4 linked regions of the Homo sapiens genome follow. The protein of the gene in region 1 purifies or fractionates together with the protein of each later gene. This does not show direct contact. Each region holds a gene or a part of one and is shown in the gene's direction. Other genes may lie near its edges.

Evidence for each region.
Region 2: the proteins of AMTN (region 1) and SERPINB7 purify together in Homo sapiens (affinity purification with mass spectrometry; one large-scale study listed by BioGRID and IntAct). This does not show direct contact.
Region 3: the proteins of AMTN (region 1) and SEC24D purify together in Homo sapiens (affinity purification with mass spectrometry; one large-scale study listed by BioGRID and IntAct). This does not show direct contact.
Region 4: the proteins of AMTN (region 1) and RABL6 purify together in Homo sapiens (affinity purification with mass spectrometry; one large-scale study listed by BioGRID and IntAct). This does not show direct contact.

Annotation. Positions count from the first base shown.
Region 1 is NC_000004.12:70,529,184-70,534,234, forward strand, and holds the end of AMTN (amelotin isoform 1 precursor), read left to right. Parts: coding exon 1-27; intron 28-1,855; coding exon 1,856-2,117; intron 2,118-3,271; coding exon 3,272-3,282; 3' UTR 3,283-3,560; downstream 3,561-5,051. UniProt on the Homo sapiens protein: Is a promoter of calcium phosphate mineralization, playing a critical role in the formation of the compact, mineralized, aprismatic enamel surface layer during the maturation stage of amelogenesis.
Region 2 is NC_000018.10:63,780,102-63,786,314, forward strand, and holds part of SERPINB7 (serpin B7), read left to right. Parts: intron 1-2,253; 5' UTR 2,254-2,271; coding exon 2,272-2,439; intron 2,440-6,213. UniProt on the Homo sapiens protein: Might function as an inhibitor of Lys-specific proteases. Might influence the maturation of megakaryocytes via its action as a serpin.
Region 3 is NC_000004.12:118,723,477-118,729,091, reverse strand, and holds part of SEC24D (protein transport protein Sec24D), read left to right. Parts: intron 1-441; coding exon 442-531; intron 532-5,436; coding exon 5,437-5,577; 3' UTR 5,578-5,615. UniProt on the Homo sapiens protein: Component of the coat protein complex II (COPII) which promotes the formation of transport vesicles from the endoplasmic reticulum (ER).
Region 4 is NC_000009.12:136,834,555-136,840,767, forward strand, and holds part of RABL6 (rab-like protein 6), read left to right. Parts: intron 1-1,187; coding exon 1,188-1,291; intron 1,292-2,791; coding exon 2,792-3,108; intron 3,109-3,307; coding exon 3,308-3,461; intron 3,462-4,354; coding exon 4,355-4,567; intron 4,568-4,667; coding exon 4,668-4,932; intron 4,933-5,139; coding exon 5,140-5,311; intron 5,312-5,599; coding exon 5,600-5,658; intron 5,659-5,767; coding exon 5,768-5,968; 3' UTR 5,969-6,213. UniProt on the Homo sapiens protein: May enhance cellular proliferation. May reduce growth inhibitory activity of CDKN2A.

The DNA of each region.
Region 1 (5,051 bases):
GGCACTATCCTAAGCTCAGAGGAATTGGTAAAAAAAATAAAAATACTATTTCAAATTATTTTCACTTCTATCACAATGTTTTCTGTCCTCATATAGTCTCTTTTGACCATAAATCCTAAATATGGTATGTACTACAATGAACTGAACATTTTTATAGTTCCTTACATTAGATTATCCTTTCTTTGTTTGGGGATTTCATTATACTTCTCCAGCTACTTTTCTATTAATTTGACTTAGCTTTTGTTTCCGTTTATTGCTATCAGATTCAGTTCTATCCAGAAAGGCAGTGCACATTTTTTAACTTCATAAGGATTTCAGTCTAGGATTATAAACTATTGAAATGTATGCAAATGTAGAATAACATAAATATTGACTTTTTACAGGAAAGATTAAATTCCTTGACTTGGATATTTAATTTTTATGGAAAAATATATCTTTTTCCAGCGTCAGATAGTGATAAATGAACTCTTTCCTACACACATAAATAATTGGAGGGCTGTACCTAAATATAGTTCATATCACCATTGCTAAACACTTCTATGCATTCCTCCATAGGTCCTTTTCTAGAGAAAAGGACTTGAATTAACATGATATCTAAACATGACAACAGTACAGAATTGAGGCAATATTTGGGAACACAGTTATTCAACAGCTTTTCTATTATGGAAAATGTAGATATTTTCTATATTGTCCATAAATAATCATCAAGGAATGGGGCTAGTGTCTGTTTTGCCAACATTGATGCATGAACATCCATATCCAGCTACTGAAGGTTCTTCTATATAACCAGCACTTTAGCAGATCCTTTACATATGTTGCTTTCAACCTTCCCCAAAGCACAAAGCAGATATTTTTGACCCAGCTTTACAGATAAAGAAACTGAGGTTAAAAGTTTAAGTAATTTAGGCCTCAAAGGCAACAATGAGAAGAAAAGAGTGGATCCAGATCCAATGCCATTTTTTAACCTACTACACTAGTGGTTTTTCAAACATTTTTAACACAACTCACAATAGCAACTACATTTTTCATGCAGCTTAGCACACACACACACACACACACACACATTCACGAAACAGCATTCACCTTTACTATATAGAATGCACTACTAGTCTACTGCCTGTTTTATTGTTTAATGATGACTGACACTCACCTTTTTTACTTCAAAACTGTGGATATCACAACCCTCAGTTTGAAAACGTCTGTACTCTGCTCCTATCTGTCATCCAGCGTAAGTCTAATTCTGGTTTCAATATCTCTTAAATGTAACACAGTGTTTCCCAAACTTCATTCCTTGCCCAGCAAATCAGGATGGCATCAAAAGCTGGTTAAAAAGGCAGATTGCTAGGTCCTGCTCCAGACCTGCTCGATCAGAATCTCTCTAAAAATGAAAAACTCCAATAGACAGGAATTCTTTATGTATCTTCAAGGAACATACAATAGCTGAATTGCCAGGATAAATGTTTCTAACTAAGTATTCCAATGCCTTTGAAAAATACATCAAAAAAACTTGAAGGGATGAAAGCCATCAGGATTAATCTACTTGAATCAATTTTTCCATTAATTTTTATGCTCTTATTTTTTGAAAAAATGTTATGAGCAAAAGAAAGATTACATGTTAGGTTTAATAATATGTAATTTATTTCTGAGGGAAATGGAGCATAGCAAAGAGTCCCAGTATTGAATCAGACTAGGCTGGACCAAGGGTGTATTTCCCCTGAGGAATGCCAGGTCTTTGCTGTCTTCTCTGACTTTACTCTCTCCATCTTTCCATTCCTACCCAAACTTGCTCCCCTTAAAAGAGAAAAGAAAATGTGTTGCTTTTAACTTTGTTTTCTGTTTGCTTCCCTCATTCCAGCCACAAATCTTCACGAGCCTCATCATCCATTCCTTGTTCCCGGGAGGCATCCTGCCCACCAGTCAGGCAGGGGCTAATCCAGATGTCCAGGATGGAAGCCTTCCAGCAGGAGGAGCAGGTGTAAATCCTGCCACCCAGGGAACCCCAGCAGGCCGCCTCCCAACTCCCAGTGGCACAGATGACGACTTTGCAGTGACCACCCCTGCAGGCATCCAAAGGAGCACACATGCCATCGAGGAAGCCACCACAGAATCAGCAAATGGTAAATTCTCCTAGCTTGGAACATGCTTCTTGGCTATAAAAGTCATCTGCAGAATGGAAAAGAGGAGTTCTTTGTCTTGCCTTGACAAATGCAGATCTTAGTAAGATTAGGAAGCCCCTTTACTCACTCACAGTTAACTCCAGCAACATGAGGGAATATTTTTACTCAGCCACCAACCCCCAGGTATTAACACTGAAGGAAGAATTTGTGTGAGTGTTTTTGGTTGTTTTGAGACAGGGTCTTGCTCTGTTGCCCGGGCTGGAGTGCAGTGGCATGATCTCGGCTCACTGCAACCTCCGTCTCCTAGGTTCAAGCGATTCTCATGCCTCAGCCTCCCAGTAGCTAGGATTACAGGCGCACATCACCACAGCTGGCTAATTTTTGTATTTTTAATAGAGACAGAGTTCAACCATGTTGACCAGGCTGGTCTGAAACTCCTGACCTCAAGTGATGCACCCACCTCGGCCTCCCAAAGTGCTGGGATTACAGGAGTGCGCCACCGCACCTGACCATACAAGCTAATTTTTGTATTATTTGTAAAAACGGGGTTTTGCCATGTTGCCCAGGCTGGTCTAGAACTCCTGGCCTCAAGCAATCTGCCTGCCTCGGCCTCCCAAAGAGCTGGGATTGCAGGCATGAGCCGCCATGACTGGCCTGAAAGATTTTTAATTGTTGGCATAACACATGTTCCATTTTGGGTCAGAACTGAAAATACTTGAAAGCAGAATGTGTTCCTTGCCCCAATACACACACACGCACATAGAAGCCTATAGGAGACACACTTCAGTTCATCATGACCCTGTCTCCACTCACTGATGGAGCCTCAGAACCTTCCTACTGTAATACTGCAAGCAGCCACTAGTGATTACCTACTGTAATAGCAGGCACTAGTAATAGCTAGCAGAGCAGATAAACCCATCTGCCGTTCTTAGATGGAACCTAAGAAATGTGACAAAAATAAGCTTTTCTTGCACCCACAAGCAAAGTTAATTGCTTAACATGTGAAAATGTCTAGAACCAAATATCCTTAGAGATAACTAAAGAATGATATGGATGCTCCTAATCCTGCAAAAGAAACTTGGATCTCAAGTAAAAGATATTTATGTTAAATATACTTTTTACCTACATTTAAAAGGTGTTTTATTTTCTTCCAGGAATTCAGTAAGCTGTTTCAAATTTTTTCAACTAAGCTGCCTCGAATTTGGTGATACATGTGAATCTTTATCATTGATTATATTATGGAATAGATTGAGACACATTGGATAGTCTTAGAAGAAATTAATTCTTAATTTACCTGAAAATATTCTTGAAATTTCAGAAAATATGTTCTATGTAGAGAATCCCAACTTTTAAAAACAATAATTCAATGGATAAATCTGTCTTTGAAATATAACATTATGCTGCCTGGATGATATGCATATTAAAACATATTTGGAAAACTGACTCTTTTTCTTCTTTGGAGATGGAAGAAAGTTGGCCCTTACAGAAACTACATTTCCTCAGGGCACTAACATGATACTCCAGGTCTAGAACTTTCTTTGGAAGTAGGAAGCACAGCAGTCAAGAAAGGGACATCCAGCAATGTGAAGACAAATTCTGGTCTCTTCACAGTTACCTCATCATTTGCTTTCTTATAAGAGTCACAAACTTAATTTTTAATAAGCAGAGTACTTTTGAACATCTAAAACATACAGTACAAAGAATTACAAATCATAATTCTGCCTATCCTCAAGTGTTTATATTCAGAACTCATGATAATGGCATTTAATGTTTAATTTTGGTATGCTTGAGTGTGAAAAATGGCATTGAAAAAAGTAATCATAATCACTAAAACAAACCAAGGTGATACTCTTGCTCCATTCACCTAAAAGGTAGAAACTAATCTGATTTAAACTTATAACAGACCATTGCAGTTCATCTATAGTGAGGGGGATTAATATAAACTGCAGTAGAGCCCCCCAAAAAGAAAGGTATGGATAGGGTTAATAACATTTCTCACTATATACGGCTCAACTCCATCAGTACGCAACAAATGGAAATATGCACCATGAAATATATTCCATGTTTAGTGTATCAGGTGGTTACAGATTTGCTAGTGGTTAATGATTTATTAGCCACCTTGTTTCAGATATGCAGAAGCTGAATAACTTACTTATAAACTGTCAATATTCATGACCAAATGAGAGTAAATTAGTATTCAAACTTCCAAAAATATTTTGCCACTTGTGATAATAATTAAAAGTGCTAATAAAGGACTTCCTGGATAACCATCTATCAAAAAAATATTCTTTCAGTTAGGAGACTGAAGCAGGAAGATCTCTTGAGGCTAGGAGTTTAAAACTAGCTTGGACACAATAGGAAGACCATATGTCTAAAAAAAGTTTGAGAAGTTATCTGGTATGTACCTGTAGTCCCAGCTCCTTGAGAGCCTGAGGCAAGAGGATCATTTGAGCCCATGCGTTCAAGGCGGCAAAGAGCTATGATCGCACCACTGCACTCCAGTCTGGGCAACAGAGCAAGACTCTGTCTTTAAAATAACTAATTGATTAATTTTTTAATTTTTTTGAGCCTCATTTTTTTAATCTGTAAAATGGAGGCAAAAATCCCTGTCATGTTCAGGCACAGTGGCTCACCGCTGTAATCCTAACACTTTGGGATGCCAAGGCGGGTGAATCACTCGAGCCCAGGAGTTTGAGACCAGCCTGGGAAGCATGGTGAAACCCTATCTCTACAAAAATAAATAAATACAAAAATTAACTGGGCATGGTGGCATGCAACTAGAGTCCCAACTATTCAAGAGGCTGAGGTGGGTGGATCATTTGAGCCCAGGAGGTTAAGGCTTCAATGAGCTGAGATTATGCCACTGCACTCCATCATGGATGACAGAGTGACACCCTCTCTCAAAAAAAAAAAAAATCCCTGTCATAGATGTCC
Region 2 (6,213 bases), on another chromosome or scaffold:
TTCTATTAAATATATTTTTCACTGTAAATACTTTGAAAGGATTAATATGACTTTGCTTTTGAAGTTACTTTCCCAAGAACAATTCATTTCATTTACTACTGTCTGATTTTCGGCAACCAGCATGAAGCCTTGGAAATTCTTTAGGATGGAGAGAATCTAGCACACAATTTCCTTCTAAAATTAATGAAATTCTTATGAATACTAAATAGAAAAATCAGCATAGATTTCATTTTCATATATTTAATTGTAAACTTGTTAATTTTGATCTTATTTTTTCATATTTTAGAAGGAATACTTATCTTTAGGTCAAAAATATGAATTGAATCCCTTAAACATTTGAGGGCCTTTAGCACTGCTAGTATCACTCACTGTATAAAGCTGCCCTTTTCCTGCCAACTCGCATCCTGTATACCTAGTCCTAACTTTCATTGTTTCTCGTCTCCTTTGTTGCAAAGAGTTTCTCCTGTAGCTTTAATCACAATTGCCACAACTTTTTACCCGGGATTGCTTGGATTAGATATAAAATCAACATACATTTTTTTCTGGGTAACTTTTGAAAGAACATAGGTGTTCTTTCTTAGAGTAAAGATATGTGGGGTGTGAATGATTTTCTCACCTTATGTGCCTAGGGTGTAACTGAGGAGTATGACTTATAACGAATTCTATATAGCTGAATTTGACCCTGAAAAACAGCATCATGTAGGGTGTCATGCCTCAGTGGTGTTCTCTGTGCTTGGAATTCCAAAGAGCAGAGTATGGGTCCCTCAGGGACATTCTTTCTGGAAATGTTTGCTGTCTTTTAGGACAGAACAGGCTATTACCACTTCACAGAGAATAGTAAATGCAGCAGCTTCAACTCATTGAACGTCTACTCTGGATCATGCATTGTACTAGAAAAGTTTTTTTTTAATTTTTTAACTCAAACTCCCATTTGACATAATAAAAGTTAAAAAACTTATTTTAATTTCATTTACAATTTTAAAAGGCCTTAAGTATTTGCAACTGTGACAAAGCCAACACAATGGCAATTTTAGAATGTTCTTCTTTCAGACTGCATGGCTCTCCCTCCTTGTGACCCCCTTCCTCACCCACAACATGCCAGTCCCCAGATGCCTATGTGTGCTCTTCTTATGGAGCAAAAGGTACAAGGAAGCATGATTTTCTGTTGAGAATCGCTATGCTAGATCCTGTACATAGATCATCTCACTGAACAAGATGAAACTTAGAAGTTCAGAGAAATTAAAGACTTGACCCAGTTCACACAACTATTAGCAACAGGGTTGAGACTTGGATGAAGTCCCCTAAGGGTTTGTGACTCCTGGCATCTGCAACACCTGGCACCTGCCACACCATCAGATGTAATATCATTGGACATTCATGAGGAATAATTTGGAGAATTCATGTAAGTTCATGTAGTCTGAGACAACCCCAACTGCTATTTTGAGATCAATTTGAGTTGAGGAGAAATTCTGCAAAAAAAATTACCCAAGTGGATCCCTGAAGAATTCCATGGTGGTAGCAACCGTCTGTATTGCAGAAACAACATCATGAATTTGAAGATAATCTCCACTTTGTTACTGCACCCTGGGTTCTCTAGGAAGAAATAGGCCTATGTGTTGAAAAGTCTTGTACATGTTCTTGATACATACTCTGATAATCACACTTTGCATTCCAAAAAAATCAGAAAATGGTTTTAAACAAATTAATGCACTTATGGGACCAATGATGCATAATACTTAAAATTAGGACAGTTTTGAAAAAAAATAGAATGTATGATTGTTCTAAGAATTTACAGAGGCCTTAATGGAAAGAATGGGTTAAAAATGATGTGTTAAACCTCAAAAATTTAACATTGTATTGAATTACAGATGGTTTAGAAAGCAAAGGCTGTAGTGCCTCAAATAGACTGTCTAATATTGTAATATTTACTTTTGCTCTATTTCAGTTCAGAAATCTGGGGTGATTTGAGAAATAGTGAGCCCCATGAATGTGTCTGCTTGGGGGTTGGAAACAGGCCACTCACAGGCCACTGAGGACAGAAATGTCCACCAACGAGAAGAGATAGTTTTAGGGTATTAGTGACAAGGATACTGGGCCAAGGGAACTTTTCCCTTTTTGTTAGAGTTATTTGATGATTACCTCCAAGGCTGAAAAAAAATGAAGCTTTAAATTATAAAAAATAAATAAATCTAAAAATATAATATTCCTAGAAAATGTACCGGGAACTAATTTCATTTTCTCATTGTCCTCTAGGCTGCACTCCATTTTGCAATGGCCTCCCTTGCTGCAGCAAATGCAGAGTTTTGCTTCAACCTGTTCAGAGAGATGGATGACAATCAAGGAAATGGAAATGTGTTCTTTTCCTCTCTGAGCCTCTTCGCTGCCCTGGCCCTGGTCCGCTTGGGCGCTCAAGATGACTCCCTCTCTCAGATTGATAAGGTCAGTCTCAGCTTTTGCAGTTAATCACTGGGACAAATTGTTTTTCCCACGAGAACATTTCGTTGCAATGGTCCCCATGTTAATGGAGGTCATCATGAGGCACAAGGTGTCACATCTTCACACATCTCCACGAGGCCCTCTTTGGGTGTGAAGAAAGCACACAGCTTGCAGTACTTGTTTTTGAGCCAAGAGGCAGCAGAAATATTCCAAGTACTGCAGCTTTGATGTTTTCCCTCAGTGCAGTGGTTCTCAAAGTGTGTTTCCCAGACCAGGATCATCAGCACCGCCTGGAGAACTTGTTAGAAATGCAAATGCTGGCCGGGCGCGGTGGCTCATGCCTGTAATCCCAGCACTTTGGGAGGCCGAGGCGGGCGGATCACGAGGTCAGGAGATCGAGACCATCCTGGCTAACACGGTGAAACCCCGTCTCTACTAAAAATACAAAAAATTAGCCGGGCATGGTGGCGGGCGCCTGTAGTCCCAGCTACTCGGGAGGCTGAGGCAGGAGAATGGCATGAACCCGGGAGGTGGAGTTTGCAGTGAGCCGAGATAGCGCTACTGCAGTCCAGCCTGGGCGACAGAGCGAGACTCCGTCTCAGAAAACAAACGATCAAACAAAACAAAAAGAAAATAAAGAAAGAAAGAAAGAGAGAGAGAGAGAGAGAGAGAGAGAGAGAGAGAGAGAGAGAGAGAGAAAGAAAGAAAGAAAGAAAGAAAGAAAGAAAGAAAGAAAGAAAGAAAGAAAGAAAGAAAGAAATGCAAATGCTTGGGCTCTACCCCAGAAGTACTGAATCAGAAACTATGGGTGTTGGACCCAGCACTCTGGGTTTTAATGAGCTCTCCAGGTGCACATGAAGGGTTGAAAACCACTGCCTGAGTAGATACAGTTGAGATAGGAGAGTTAGAAGGAGATTCCAATGACATCCCAGTTTAAGCACTGGTTACCGGGGCACAAAAACATCATAGTACATTCCAGATAATAGCAGCCTACCTGAATAGTCCTCACATTGTCATCATCACCACCTTCACCGCCACCTTCAGGGAGTGCTTATTAACACACCCGTGCACACAGCTCTGGGAGCACTTTATAGGGAAGTGGAATGGTCGTTTCCCTCCCTTCTCAGAAAATTGCCACTGAAACTCAGTAGCTCAACAGCAGGTGAGATGCCAGGTCCAGGCTGCATGCAGAGGCCTTGATGTCGTCCCTTTCTGCCCCCACCTCCCTGTGCCCACCTCTTGCCCCACTATTCCTCCCATTATTTTAGTTCTGAAGGGCTTGCCAGAGGAATCTGGTGCCTGTTGTAACCTGTCATACCTCAGGTCATATGGAAAACCATTTATGGGATAATTTAAGCTAGAATAATTCCTTCCTTTATCTGAATAGCTCAGTAAATATTAATTGCTAGAGAACAACTACAGAGTCTTAGACTGCTGTTTTTTTCAAGCGCTAGAGCGGTTTACAACCTAGTACATAGGATACAACACTTTAATGAGATGATAGTAACAACTATCTGCTGAGAACTTAATCAGTGTTCAGGATCTGGGATAAGCCCTAAGAATATGATCTTATTTGATATTCACATTGACACACTGAAGTGGGAATATTACCCTGATTTTATGGAGGGGTGACCATACTGTGTGCTGGTAGATGGCGGACCTGAGATTCAAACTCAGGATGATCTTCTACAACTGGTTTTCTCAACTTTGGCACTATTGACATTTTTGGCTGGATAAATCTTTGTTGTGAGGGGCTGTCCTATGCATCATTTAGCAGCATTCCTGGCCTCTCATCAACAACTACCCGCAGCATACCCCTCCCCCATCATGACAACCAAAAACATTTCCAGATATTTCCAAAGAATGCCCTCAAAAGCAAAATCAGTCTCCAGTTGAGAACTGCTCTGAAGCCACCAAACTGAAATATAGCTCAAAGTACATCACTGTGAAGCTTCAGTATTTTAAAGTGGGTATTTTGATAAATAAATATAAAGCCCTTGAAAAACATTCAACAAATAAAAATTTATTCATTCATAAAAATGCATAATGTTTCAGAACCAAGTGAGATGATTTGGTATCATGGAAACATAGCCTTGGTCTGGGAGTTAGAAGATTGGGTCGAAGATCTGACCTTGGGAAAATCATGTCATCTCTGTGGGCACTAGTGTCCTCACCTGTGCACGGAGGATGCTGATTTGATGATAAAACAAATAAAGAAAAAAACCTTACAGTTGTCACTGTTCAATGTGTTAGACAATGATGTGCAGGCACCATGCCTATGACTAAAGCTTGATTTTAATGCAACAGAAGACACACGGCTCTTACCTACTGTGTGCTTTCATGTCAGGAGCAATCTTTCAGCTCCTGTCTGGTACACCTTCTGAAGTCTCCTTGCCCTGCACCTCATGCCTGGTGGGCCAGGGTCAACAGCTCATGAGTCATGGTGAACTGAGAGAGCTGCTGTTCTGCTGGAGTTTGCTCTGTACTCTTTACTGCCTCATCAATTACTCTCATGTGTGACTTTTTATAACTCTTACTATTATGATCTTGCATGAAGAAACATGTAAGAGGAGAAAAGGCAACTACAGACACAAAAACATTCATCTAATTTATCTGCACACATTTTTAATCCTCTGTAAATGTCTTCTAGGAAATTAATTTTCAGCTTCTCCCCTGCTTCAGTTGGTTTCTCATTACTACACTCGACCCTTGTCACCATAAATCACACATTTCTATTTTAAATGAATCCCGGCTCAATTTATGGCTTCCATCTGTGTGTCTCTTTTAAGCATTCCCATGGATCTGTGTTTCTTTTTCTTTTTGATGCTCAAAGTGTCATAGCTTCGCCAGTAGATATCTCTTTAACCCAATCTTTTTAAACAATCCTTCCCAATAACTTTAAAATATTTTTGCTTTCTGACAAGACGTTCTGGGCTTGTCTTGAGTTATCTTAGCTCCAAAAGGAGCTCAGCTATTCCTCATGAAACTCTGGCTCATTTACTCTATTAAATATATAGTATAGAGTAAATATATATGTTTACTTGATTAAAGTCAAGAATCAGTGTGCTTGAGGTTCAATGCAGTTGAAGTGCCATGAAGGCTGCTCACCATTTGAGTGAAAGAGCTGGAAAAGCGTATTTACTGACAAAGTCATGGGTTCAGACTCATGGTTTCTTTTTGTTGTTGTGTTTTGTTTTTTTTGTGTGTGTTTTTATTTTCATTTAGATCTAATAATGCTGTTCTTTCTTATAGTGTTTGAATATAAAAGTATTAAAAAGTGATTTTCCTATTTCGTAAGCTACTTACTCCTCTCTTCTCTCACAAGACATTTCCATTGAAATGCTTTATATATATATATAATATACGTATATATACACATATATAATATACGTATATATACACATATATAATATACTTATATATACACATATATAATATACGTATATATACACATATATAATATACGTATATATACACATATATAATATACGTATATATACACATATATATAATATATGTATATATAATATACTTATATATACATATATACATATAATATAAGTATATATATGTATATATGTATATATATACGTATATACATATATACACACACACACACACACACACACCAGCATGGCACATGGCACACACACACCAGCATGGCACATACGTGTATATATATATATATATATATATACACACACACACATCCACACATTTCCTTTGAAATGCATTATTTTATATATTATATATAGTTTGGATTACACGTTTGGATTA
Region 3 (5,615 bases), about 48 Mb from region 1:
TAAAATGCTATGTAAATAGTTGTTAAACTATATTGTTTACAGAATAATGACAAAAAAAACCCAAAATCCATGCCTTTTCAGTACAGATGCATTTTTTACAAATAATATTTTTGTCTGTGGTTGGCTGAATCCATGGATGCAGAACCCATGGATACAGAGGGCTGACTACGTCTGTGCTGTATCATTTCAGTGATGTACATGTGTCAAATTCCAGAGGAAGAGTTTTTTCCAAAAGACAGAAATAATTGTCTTCTGTCAATTATGGGAATGGGTGCCAATAATTTTTAGTGCATTTTCCCCACAGTTTTGGTTTTCAGGTAATGAACTACACCAATGTTCAAGTACATGGTTTTATGTTTTTAACATTATGATAATCTCATATTGCTACTTCTATCTAAATGTTATAAACTGTACTAAAACTTTGATTTTCTTAAATCTAAGACATTGCTGCCTGAAGTGGGAAACCCATACTCTCAACAACTCAGAATGATAATGGGTATTATCCAACAAAAGAGGCCATATTCAATGAAGGTAAGAAAGCAATTTTATTTTTCCCTTTATTCAAATGTTAAAAATTTCATTAAAGACTTAACATGCACACCCTATATTTTTATGACGTGATCTTTGATTTTAAAAACTCACACCATCACAAATCTAAAATAAAAGTTAAAAAAACCTCACATTAACCTCTAAGTATATCTACCTACTTACCAGTCACAAACATAAATGGCTATTACCATGGGTTAACTATGGGGTATCTTAAGTCAGTATTAACTTCATGATTTAATAGCAATTGGTACCATTAACAGACTTTGAAGTGACTTTTCTTCTGGTGCCTAAAATTACTTAATTATAAAAGTATCATTTAGAACATTTGTAAAATTTGATTTATTACAATGTTTAATTTATAATCTCTGAAAAGTTTTGTTATTCTTGTCCTTCCAAGCCCTTCTAGCCTTTTCTGAGTTTGAGTAAAAAATTTTAATATGTCTAGAACCCAAGAAAATTATATGTTGTTGCCACGTTCCAGATACTTACTTGTTTTCCTTCCCAAGCTCAATATTAGAGTCTCCTGGGATCTAGAATGTATAGATGATGATGATGTGCTGTGTAACACTGCTTACTGAAGAGCTATAAGACACTCAGCTGGAGGCACGTGTCTACAAGTGCCAGGGTATTTATGGGGCCAGTTGTCTCCTGAAATGTAAATGTGATGTCAATCTGAACCAACATTCGTAACTGTGAAAGTAACTCATGCATGCAAACATCAACTTTAGGTAGAGCTTAGGTAAATTGAACTAATGACATCTGGATGAATACACAACTTTTCTAGAACAGTTTTCACACCACACAGCACCTATGGTTCAGTTTAAGGGCAGGACCTAGAGATGACAGACAAGGCTCAAACTAAACACATTCTCTTAAGATTTGGTTACACGTTTTTCTAGGGCATTCTCTCTGAATGCCCTAGAAACATGTAACCAAATCTTGAGTCTCAGGAAATGCAAACTGAAAGCCACTGGTATTTAGAATGCACAGCAATAATGATTCACCTTCATCCCAGCTGCAGCAACTGCATCCCTCCAACTGGGCATTTGCAGAAAAGAGGCAAGACTAAGCATGGAGATCATCCTTGTGCTCAGTAGTTCCTCCTTCAGGGAAAAACATTAAACTTTCCTCTGCTTTCTCCCACCTGTTCCAACCACTTATCAAAGTTATGTCAGCTTTGGTTATAAAACCATCTGGGGGTGAGCTTCAAATATTATATGTGAATAAAATATTAAGCACCTGTGTGATAAAACAATTTTAGCTTGAATACTTAAAGAATCAGATTTTCTTATGTACTATCTGCAAATGTATCCATCTGTTCATAGAGTGCTATCTCTATAAAGAATTAGAAATATCTAAAATCTACAGATGTCAGAGTTGAAAGGAATCTGGGAGATACCTGGCTTCCTGTAGCTGCACATCACAGACATGAAAGTGAGGCTCAAAGGAGCTCACTAGCTTGGTCCGGGTCTCACAACTGGATCATAGCAGATACAGGGCTTGTACTAGCTGCTTAGTCCCAGTGCACTTAGCATTCCACCCTTTCTCTGACACTTGAAAACTGACTAAACAAAGGAAATGAAAACATACTTTTAAAGGGTTAAGATTAGGTAGGAGAAAAGAGTTGGTATGGAAGGATCAAGAGTAACAAAATCAAATCTAGAAGGAACTGCTACCTTCCAGGTTATGCTAATTACTTTTTCAAAAACAGTCCTCTTAGACCTTATTGTCAGATTATTCTCTGTGGGGAACAACAACAAAAAAAGATTTCTACCACAGTATATCTACAGATGACCGAAACCAAGTGCCTTCCTGAGAAATTCTAGTCCTGCCCTGCACAGTTCTCTGTGCTCCAAATGTTTTTTATTCTCTCTCCTTCCACTTGTATTTTCTAGATTATTCCTTTCCCATTGGCCCTTTTCCAGTTTACAAGCTGTTCAAATCTACCTTCATAGAAGCTGCCACTTCTCCAAGATTCTGCTTCCCTTTCCTCATTCATTCTACAAATATTTATTGAACACCGGCAATATACCAAACATTCTACAACCAAGCTCCTTGAAAAAGTCTATATTAACTGCTCTTTCCTTCTTCTCATCTCTCCACTTCTCTGTAAACTGCCAAATTGCTAAAGACAATTGATTCTCAATCCTTTTATGCATTTACAAGGTTGACTACTTCCTCAAATTCTCTCCTGTCAGCTTTCAAAACATCCCCTGCTCCTGATTCTTCTTTCTCAGTGACTCTTTTTCATAGGCTTCTCTTCATTCATCTGCCACTTAAGAGTTGGTATTCCCCGAGGGTTGTATCATGGCTCTCTTCTCGCTCAACATGTTCTACCTGGGCCTTCCTAATCACTCCCATGCTTTAGCGATTCCCTGTGAGTCAGCCAATGAAAGATGAGATTGGCTTTTGAAGCACATTAATTCTTTAAGACCTCTGGTAAGGTGACCCAGAGAATGTCACATTCAGAGTTAGCCAGTCTTCCCTTGGAGAAGGCACACAAGAAGCAAGGAGGTGACAAGCAGTGATTATTTTAATGTTCTCTTCCTACTCTATAGGGCCATCCCCCTCCCTTTAGAAATGTAAAGCGGGGAAATAAAGATGGATCTACCAATCCATACCAGTATGCTTTCCTTTTATTGGTGTGGGTGTGCCCCTTGAAGAGACGACCATCACTGTGTCAAGACAGGCCAATACCACTTCCATGACTCCACTCCCCTGAGACCTTCCACTATACTTTCTGTGTCATCCTGACACCTGTAGATAATCAAATGGTAGGATAGGATATTAATCACTGTAGCTTAAAGCTAAGTTTCTCCCAAGGCTGACATTCATTCCCTGTTCTACTTACCACCTCAGCTCATAGCGAGACACTTTTGTCAGAGGAGGTTGTACAATGAGCACCACACAAAAACAAAAAAAAAAACCCAAGTGAATGGCAGCAATAGAAAATACCTCAGATGAGCAATCTGACCTTCTTTCCATTAATTTCCATAAAGAAAGTAAATTCTAAAGAAATTGGAACTTCAAGTCTTTCCTCCTTCAATGTCTTATCCTGCCCAGCCTCAGTCTGAATTGTGTCAGAGGCTAGACCCACACTGCCCCTACCAATCATGGACAATAGTAAAGTTGTAGTGGCATGTGGGAGAGGGTGGATAAAACATAAAATGAAAAGAATCCTGACTTCAGGTTCATCAGGAGGCAAATCTTAAACTTCTTTGGAGAAATCTCATTAAGGGTTAGTTTTGCTTCCCCATGTAGGAGTGGAATCTGCCTATGCACACAGCTATTCCAGTGCCAACTCCCAGTACCTAGAGCTGACACCCAAAAGCCAAGGCATCACACATATCTGTATCCACATGGAATTAGCTGAGTTGTGGCAACAGCAGTTGTTCTTATATATTATTATTTTTACTAGGTCGGGGCAACTTAAAACCTAACAGACTTGGATCCAGGCCGAAACGTTATAAAGGAAAAAAGCAAGTGGTGTTGACAGAGTTACTCTCTGCTTGATAACTAAAAAGCATAGAATGCAAAAGTAGGGAGGGCCCTGCCCTCCTAGCCAAAATTGCACATACCTTCCCTGCTGCAGCTGGTGAAGCAGCTAACTGCATGTGTTTCCCTATTGCAGGCCTTTCTGGTGGGTTTACCTCCTGAGAGGAAGAAGTGAGAAATACCCTCGCTCCTCTTAATTACACAGGAGGCAGGTGGAGAGGCATTGTTGTGCATGTGTGGCTCAGTTAACCCCACTTGTGGCGCAATAAATATGAAATTATGACAATTCAGATCATCTACCTTGACTTCCTCAAGTAGGAATACAGGTGTAGAAAGAAGGGTTCAAAGTGTTCATGACAAAACTGCCTCTCTTCTGGGCTTCTTCCCTGTGGGTTTCTTCTTAGAGCAGCACTCTCCAGTAATGCAAATGAATATGCAATTCTGTGTTTTCTGATGACTGCATTTAAAAAGAAAAAATTCATTTAAATAATTAATTTAACCCAGTATATCTAAAATATAATTTCTATATGTAATCTGTATCAATTATTGAGATATTTTTATATTTTATTTTTCATACTAAGTCTAGAAATCTATTTTTTTCTAGAATCTTATATAGAAAATATAGAAATCTTATATTTACAGCACATCTCAATTTGGATGAGCCACATTTTAAATGCTCAATAGTATGTGTGTCTGGCTGTTGTACTGGACAGCACAGGTCTAGAGAATCATGATGAGCAAAGGACAGGAGTTCTCCCTGTTTTCCCTGTGTGTTAACCTCTCTAGCATCTCTCCAATCTACCCCCTTTCCACCTCCACTGCTCTAATTCAGAACCTGATCATCTCCCACCCAGACACTTCAAACCACTTCCTATCTAGTGTCCCTCATCTCACGAATGTATTGTACATACTGCTGCCACTTAACTCTCTCATTTCATTCTTCTGCACCTTCACTGGATCACATTTCCTACAGAAACCCAAACTCATTATGATGATAATTTGTCCCTTTTAGAAGAAGCCTGTGATAATTTACATGCCAGCCATAATTGTATCTCTGGTACATGGCACATGTATTCCAGTATGGAACACTTTCTAGCCCTACCCCTATCCTTTAAGGCTCAGGGGACAGTTACTATCACTGTGAAGCCTTTCCCGTAACACTCTGCTTAGGTTTCATTTTTGCCACTTAAAATTGTATGTCTTAGGTTTTGGGGTTTCGGGGTCCATGCCTCTTTCCACTCTAGATATCAGGCACTTTCCCATCATCCTCCATAGCCTCACACATAATGGGCATTCAATAATGTTTGCCAAAATTGAAATAGACAAAATTGACCCATTTTCAAATAATGTTTATAACCAGGGGCTGTTACTGTTTTGTTTTTTTTTTCCTAGCTCACAATTGTAAAGCAGCGAGAACAACCAGAAATGGTTTTCCGACAGTTCCTGGTAGAAGACAAAGGACTTTACGGAGGCTCTTCTTATGTGGATTTCCTTTGTTGTGTTCACAAGGAGATCTGTCAGCTGCTTAATTAATTGAAACTTCTCTGTCATTGATGTTGCATTTCCAAGGA
Region 4 (6,213 bases), on another chromosome or scaffold:
TGTAACCTCTGCCTCCTGGGTTCAAGCGATTCTCCTGCCTAAGCCTCCCAAGTAGCTGGGATTACAGGCGCCTGCCACCACGCCTGGCTAATTTTTGTATTTTTAGTAGGGACGGGGTTTTGCCATATTGGCCAGGACGGTCTCGATCTCTTGACCTCGTGATCTGCCCGCCTTGGCCCCCCCAAAGTGCTGGGATTACAGGTGTGAGCCACCACGCCCAGCCTCACATTTTTATTTTAAAAACCTCTCCAGGCTGGGCGCAGTGGCTCACGCCTATAATCCCAGCTGTTAGGGAGGCAGAGGTGGGAGGACAGCTCGAGCCCAGGAGTTCCAGATCTTCTGCCTGGGCAATATAATATAGCATGACCCTGTTCTAAAAAAAAAAAAAAAAAAAAAATCTCTGAAAAAGATGATTCAAAAAAAAAAAAAGGAGAGGCCAGGCAAGTAGCTCAGGCCTGTAATTTCAGCAGAGGCCAAGCTGGGAGGATCACTTGAGTCCAGGAATTAGAGACCAGTCTGGGCAACATAGCGAGACCCCATCTCTATTTAAAAAAAGAGAAGGGGCCGGGCACGGTGGCTCCCGACTGTCATCCTCGCACTTTGGATGCTGAGGCAGCTGGATCACCTGAGGTCAGGAGTTCGTGAGGCTCCGGCGTTTGTATTTCATTTGAATCTAAAGTGAGCAGCCACAGGGACCCGCAGCTCATCAGACCAGCCTGGGGTTCCAGGCCAGGAGGGCAGTGGTTTGCTCCAGAGCCAGCTGCTTGTGGGTGTGGGACGGTGGCGACGCGTGCACCGGGGATGTGTCCTGCCACCAGAGGAGGTGTGCGTGGCGGGGAGCAGAGGGGCTTTGTTTCCCAGGTGAAGGTGCGGCTTCTTCACTCTTAGAGGTGCGTGTGTGGGTGGGGGTGCTTGCTGTTGAGGTTTATGCCTGTGACTGACAGCTGTCCCCCAAGCCATGCTGGCAGTGTGTAGGTGTCGTGCCGGCCACCGCAGAGGAATCCTCTGGGCTTCTGTGGTTCAAGTGGGGCCCAGCGCAGAGCTCCATGAGTTGCTGAGCAGCCAGCCCTGCAGCATCTCCTGGTTTTGGCAGCAGGAGGCGTCCCCTGTGCATTCAGGGGCTGTGGGGCTGGGGCACTCGCAGCAGGAAGGAGCCCTGCTCAGGCCTGCGTGCTCCCTTTCTGCAGAGGGAGACGCTGTTGCGGCAGCTGGAGACGAACCAGCTGGACATGGACGCCACGCTGGAGGAGCTGTCGGTGCAGCAGGAGACGGAGGACCAGAACTACGGCATGTATGTGGCCGGACCCGCCCGTGCGGGCGGTGTGGGGGCTGCGGGCGTGGCCGTGGTGCAGGGCCATGGGCTGCACCAAGGAGACAGCAGAGGGGAGTGTCCCCTGTTTGGGGTAAATTAGTCACCTTTGGGCACGGGTGGAGGAGGACTCAGGTTTGCACTGCCCCCAGCAGCCCCCCCACAGTCACCCCTGGCGTGGACTCCTCATACAGGTCATGCTGTGCCTGCCACTCTGAGTACCGCTGACCGTGGCCAGGTGCTGGTGCTCATGGAGTGCTGCTGGGGCTGCCTGCCCATCAGGGGCTTGGCCTCCCAGATTGATGCCAGCATGGGGTGTGCTTTCTGGGGAGCTGCTTGACTTTGGGAAGCTCCCTGTGTTGAAGAGGCATACAGGCCAGGACATGGAGGTCTCTGGTCCTCGATAGCAGAGGGCGGCTCAGAGCATCCTCCTGAGTGGGCCTGGGCAGTGCATAGCCCCGGGGTTGCGGCCAGTGGGACAGCTGGCCCGTTCTCTGCCTCAGGCTCCTGTACAGCTAGGGGCTTGGTGCCTCCCCTGGGACCCAGGCAGGGACCACGGAATCAGTGGCCCTCCTGAGGCCCCCCAGGAGGTCTCTGTTTCCAGAAGGAGAGCCCTGTGGGTCACCTTGGATCTGGCTGTTGGCTCAGACACAGCAAGAGACCGAGAGGGAAGGCAGTTTGATGCCTGGAGAGGGACCCGTGGCTTCCAGCTGCCAGGCCAGCCCCAGAATGGAGCCCCCCGCATGGGCGCTTCTCTGTTGAACCAATCCTGGCATTTCCTGGGCCTGAGAGTTGGGTCAGCTGGATGCTGCGATGGCCGCACGTGCTCCACCAAGCCCCAGCCCCCTCCTCTTCCCAGAAACCCCCGCTCACGGGAAGGTCCAGTTGCTGCCATCTGGCCACCTCTGCATGGAGCCCCCAACAGCTGTGCCTCAGAACAGATCCGAAGTGACTTTCAGGGGAGCTGGACACATGTACGCTGGTGCCTGCTGTCCCCACCCTTTGGCACTGCTGCTCTTTCTTTTTCTGAGATGGAGTCTCGCTCTGTCGCCCAGGCTGGAGCGCAGTGGTGTGATCTCGGCTCACCGCAAGCTCCGCCTCCCGGGTTCACGCCATTCTCCTGCCTCAGCCTCCCAAGTAGCTGGGGCTACAGGCACCCGCCACCACACCCGGCTAATTTTTTTTGTATTTTTAGTAGAGACGGGGTTTCACTGCGTTAGCCAGGACGGTCTCCACCTCCTGACCTCGTGATCTGCCTGCCTTGGCCTCCTACAGTGCTGGGATTACAGGCATGAGCCACCGTGCCTGGCTGGCACTGCTGCCCTTGGAAGTGGATGGGGATGATGGCCTCTGTGGGGCGGGTGGCCCAGAACACAGTGGCTCTTCCCAGCCCCAGCAGCAGCAGCAGAGAGCCCCCTGTCACCTGAGGGCCTCAGGGAGAGGCAGGGGAGCCAGGCTTCTCACCCGCCTTCTGCCTTTCAGCTTCCTGGAGATGATGGAGGCTCGCAGCCGTGGCCATGCGTCCCCACTGGCGGCCAACGGGCAGAGCCCATCCCCGGGCTCCCAGTCACCAGTGGTGCCTGCAGGCGCTGTGTCCACGGGGAGCTCCAGCCCCGGCACACCCCAGCCCGCCCCACAGCTGCCCCTCAATGCCGCCCCACCATCCTCTGTGCCCCCTGTACCACCCTCAGAGGCCCTGCCCCCACCTGCGTGCCCCTCAGCCCCCGCCCCACGGCGCAGCATCATCTCTAGGCTGTTTGGGACGTCACCTGCCACCGAGGCAGCCCCTCCACCTCCAGGTAGGCCCTGGAGCTGCCCCTCCCAAACTGGTCCCAGACCCCCAGGCCCTCACAGGTGGGGTCCTGGATTTCGGAGCGCTCCACGCTTCTTCCTGCTTGTCCCAGTCCCGTGGGCACATCCCGGGTGGGCCTGGCTTGGGGTTGGGTGCAGTGAGGGTTCTGGTGCCGAGTGAAGAGGACCCGGCATCACTGTTCACAGAGCCAGTCCCGGCCGCAGAGGGCCCAGCAACGGTCCAGAGTGTGGAGGACTTTGTTCCTGACGACCGCCTGGACCGCAGCTTCCTGGAAGACACAACCCCCGCCAGGGACGAGAAGAAGGTGGGGGCCAAGGCTGCCCAGCAGGACAGCGACAGGTGAGGGGTGGGCCTGGGCCTCCTCTCCCATTGCCCCCCAGCCTCCAGGGTGCCCGAGCAGCAGGTGGGGCTGGCTTTCTAGGGGCGCAGAAGGGGCCCCCCGCCGGCTGGTCACTGTTGGCTGAGGACAGAGCAGCTCTGTGGCTGGAGCAGACGAGGGAAGGGCTTGGACGGGGCTTCCAGACATCAGAAAGGCCTGGCCACCTGCTCTGCCCACACCCTGGAGAGGACAGGGGCACCTTGGGGTCTTCTGTGGGCAGATGCCACATGGAAGCCATTGGAGAGGCCACTGCAGGTCATATGGGAGGTTCAGGCCACCAGATGTGGTCTCCACAGGGCCAGGATCCAGGTGCTGCAGAGACAGGGGCGGCTTCCTGCAGGTCCTAGAGCTGGGAGCTAGAGCCGCCTCCCCAGCCATCTGCCAGCCCCTCCCACCACTCTGTCTGCCAAGCTGCCCCAAATTTTGCCTGCAGCAAAGCCCTGCATTTGGTCCCAGGACAGCCCTGGACAAGCTCCACCCACAGTGGCCTCAGCACCTCAGCCTCACCCATTGCTGTGGGGCAGCGGCTTCCTCCAGAAATACACAAAGGACAGAAAGCCCCGTGGCCCTGAGCTGGGCCCGCCTCCTCCACGAGCGCCCACTTGTGCGGCTCCACATCCTTCACCCACTGAGCGGCCGCAGGGCAGCACTGTGTCCAACCTTGTGCCCCCGACCCCTTCCTGCTCAGAAGCCCTGTGACCATGAGGGGGCCTCTCCACAACACAGCACCTGGGGTGGGGTGGCCCCACGGCCAGGGTGTGCTGGGTACCAGGGCGCCTAGAACCAAGGCCCGTGAGCCCGGCCAGCCATCCCTACCCCGTGGCCCTTGACCGCTTTGCCCCCTGCTTTGCAGTGATGGGGAGGCCCTGGGCGGCAACCCGATGGTGGCAGGGTTCCAGGACGATGTGGACCTCGAAGACCAGCCACGTGGGAGTCCCCCGCTGCCTGCAGGCCCCGTCCCCAGTCAAGACATCACTCTTTCGAGTGAGGAGGAAGCAGAAGTGGCAGCTCCCACAAAAGGCCCTGCCCCAGCTCCCCAGCAGTGCTCAGAGCCAGAGACCAAGTGGTAAGGGCAGGTGTCCCCACGGGTGCGGCCTGGAGACCCGGGTGGGGCAGTTCAGGACGCCTCCAGAGGACCCTGACTGACCCTCTGCTTGTCCACAAAGGTCCTCCATACCAGCTTCGAAGCCACGGAGGGGGACAGCTCCCACGAGGACCGCAGCACCCCCCTGGCCAGGCGGTGTCTCTGTTCGCACAGGTCCGGAGAAGCGCAGCAGCACCAGGCCCCCTGCTGAGATGGAGCCGGGGAAGGGTGAGCAGGCCTCCTCGTCGGAGAGTGACCCCGAGGGACCCATTGCTGCACAAATGCTGTCCTTCGTCATGGATGACCCCGACTTTGAGAGCGAGGGATCAGACACACAGCGCAGGGCGGTAAGACGAGTCCTCCCGGGGCAGAGGTCAGCCAGGTGGCCAGGGTCCCTCCCACAGGCCTGATCTGGGTGGGTGCAGTGGGAGGAGGCTTCTGGAAGAGGCATCTCATGTCCCCACACTTGGGCCTTGCCGGCCTGGTTTGAGATCCCACAACCCCTGGGGGTGTGGGAGGGATGATGGCCTGACCAGTTGCTCTCCCTGCTCCAGGATGACTTTCCCGTGCGAGATGACCCCTCCGATGTGACTGACGAGGATGAGGGCCCTGCCGAGCCGCCCCCACCCCCCAAGCTCCCTCTCCCCGCCTTCAGACTGAAGAATGACTCGGACCTCTTCGGGCTGGGGCTGGAGGAGGCCGGACCCAAGGAGAGCAGTGAGGAAGGTGGGTGGGGGCACCAGAGTGCGGTCAGCCTGCTGGAGTTTGGGTAGAACGTGGGCCTCCTCCCAGCTGCTGGCCGCTGGCCGGGGTCCTCTCCTGAGTCCAGGATGCTGTGCCATGCTCCTGGCAGCCCCCTGCAGGAGCTGATGTTTGCAGTGTGGTCCTGTCCATCAGCAGGGCCTCCTGGAGGGCTGGGGCTCGCTGCTTTGTGAGTTTCTAGAGAAGTCCTGTCACCCAGCTTGGGGTCCCCGTTGGCCTGAGTTTGAGCCACTGTCTGTCCTGTCTGTGCAGGTAAGGAGGGCAAAACCCCCTCTAAGGAGAAGAAGAAGAAGAAGAAAAAAGGCAAAGAGGTACTGGCTACTCCCCTTCCTGGCAGGCCAGGACTGGGTGGCATGCGGTCCTGGGACCAGGGCTGTGGCTTCCTGTGACTCCATGGCGCCCCATCCTTGTGCTCCTCAGGAAGAAGAAAAAGCTGCCAAGAAGAAGAGCAAACACAAGAAGAGCAAGGACAAGGAGGAGGGCAAGGAGGAGCGGCGACGGCGGCAGCAGCGGCCCCCGCGCAGCAGGGAGAGGACGGCTGCCGATGAGCTGGAGGCTTTCCTGGGGGGCGGGGCCCCGGGCGGCCGCCACCCTGGGGGTGGCGACTACGAGGAGCTCTAGGCCGGCGTGGGCAGTGGCCGCCCTGGGGCGGGGGGCGTGCCTGTCACTGCCTGGGGAGGCATTTGCCTCTGTACCATCGCCTTTGCCGCTGCCCCGTGGCTGCCGTGTGCGCTTCTGAGCTGGAAGAGGCCGGGCATTGGTGGTCCCCAGGCTGGGCCCTGCAGGTGCTGGGCCTTCAGGCCCAGTGTGAGCCTGCTCTGCAAGAAGGGAGGGGACAGCTGGCTTCAGCCAGGCTCGGTGGACAC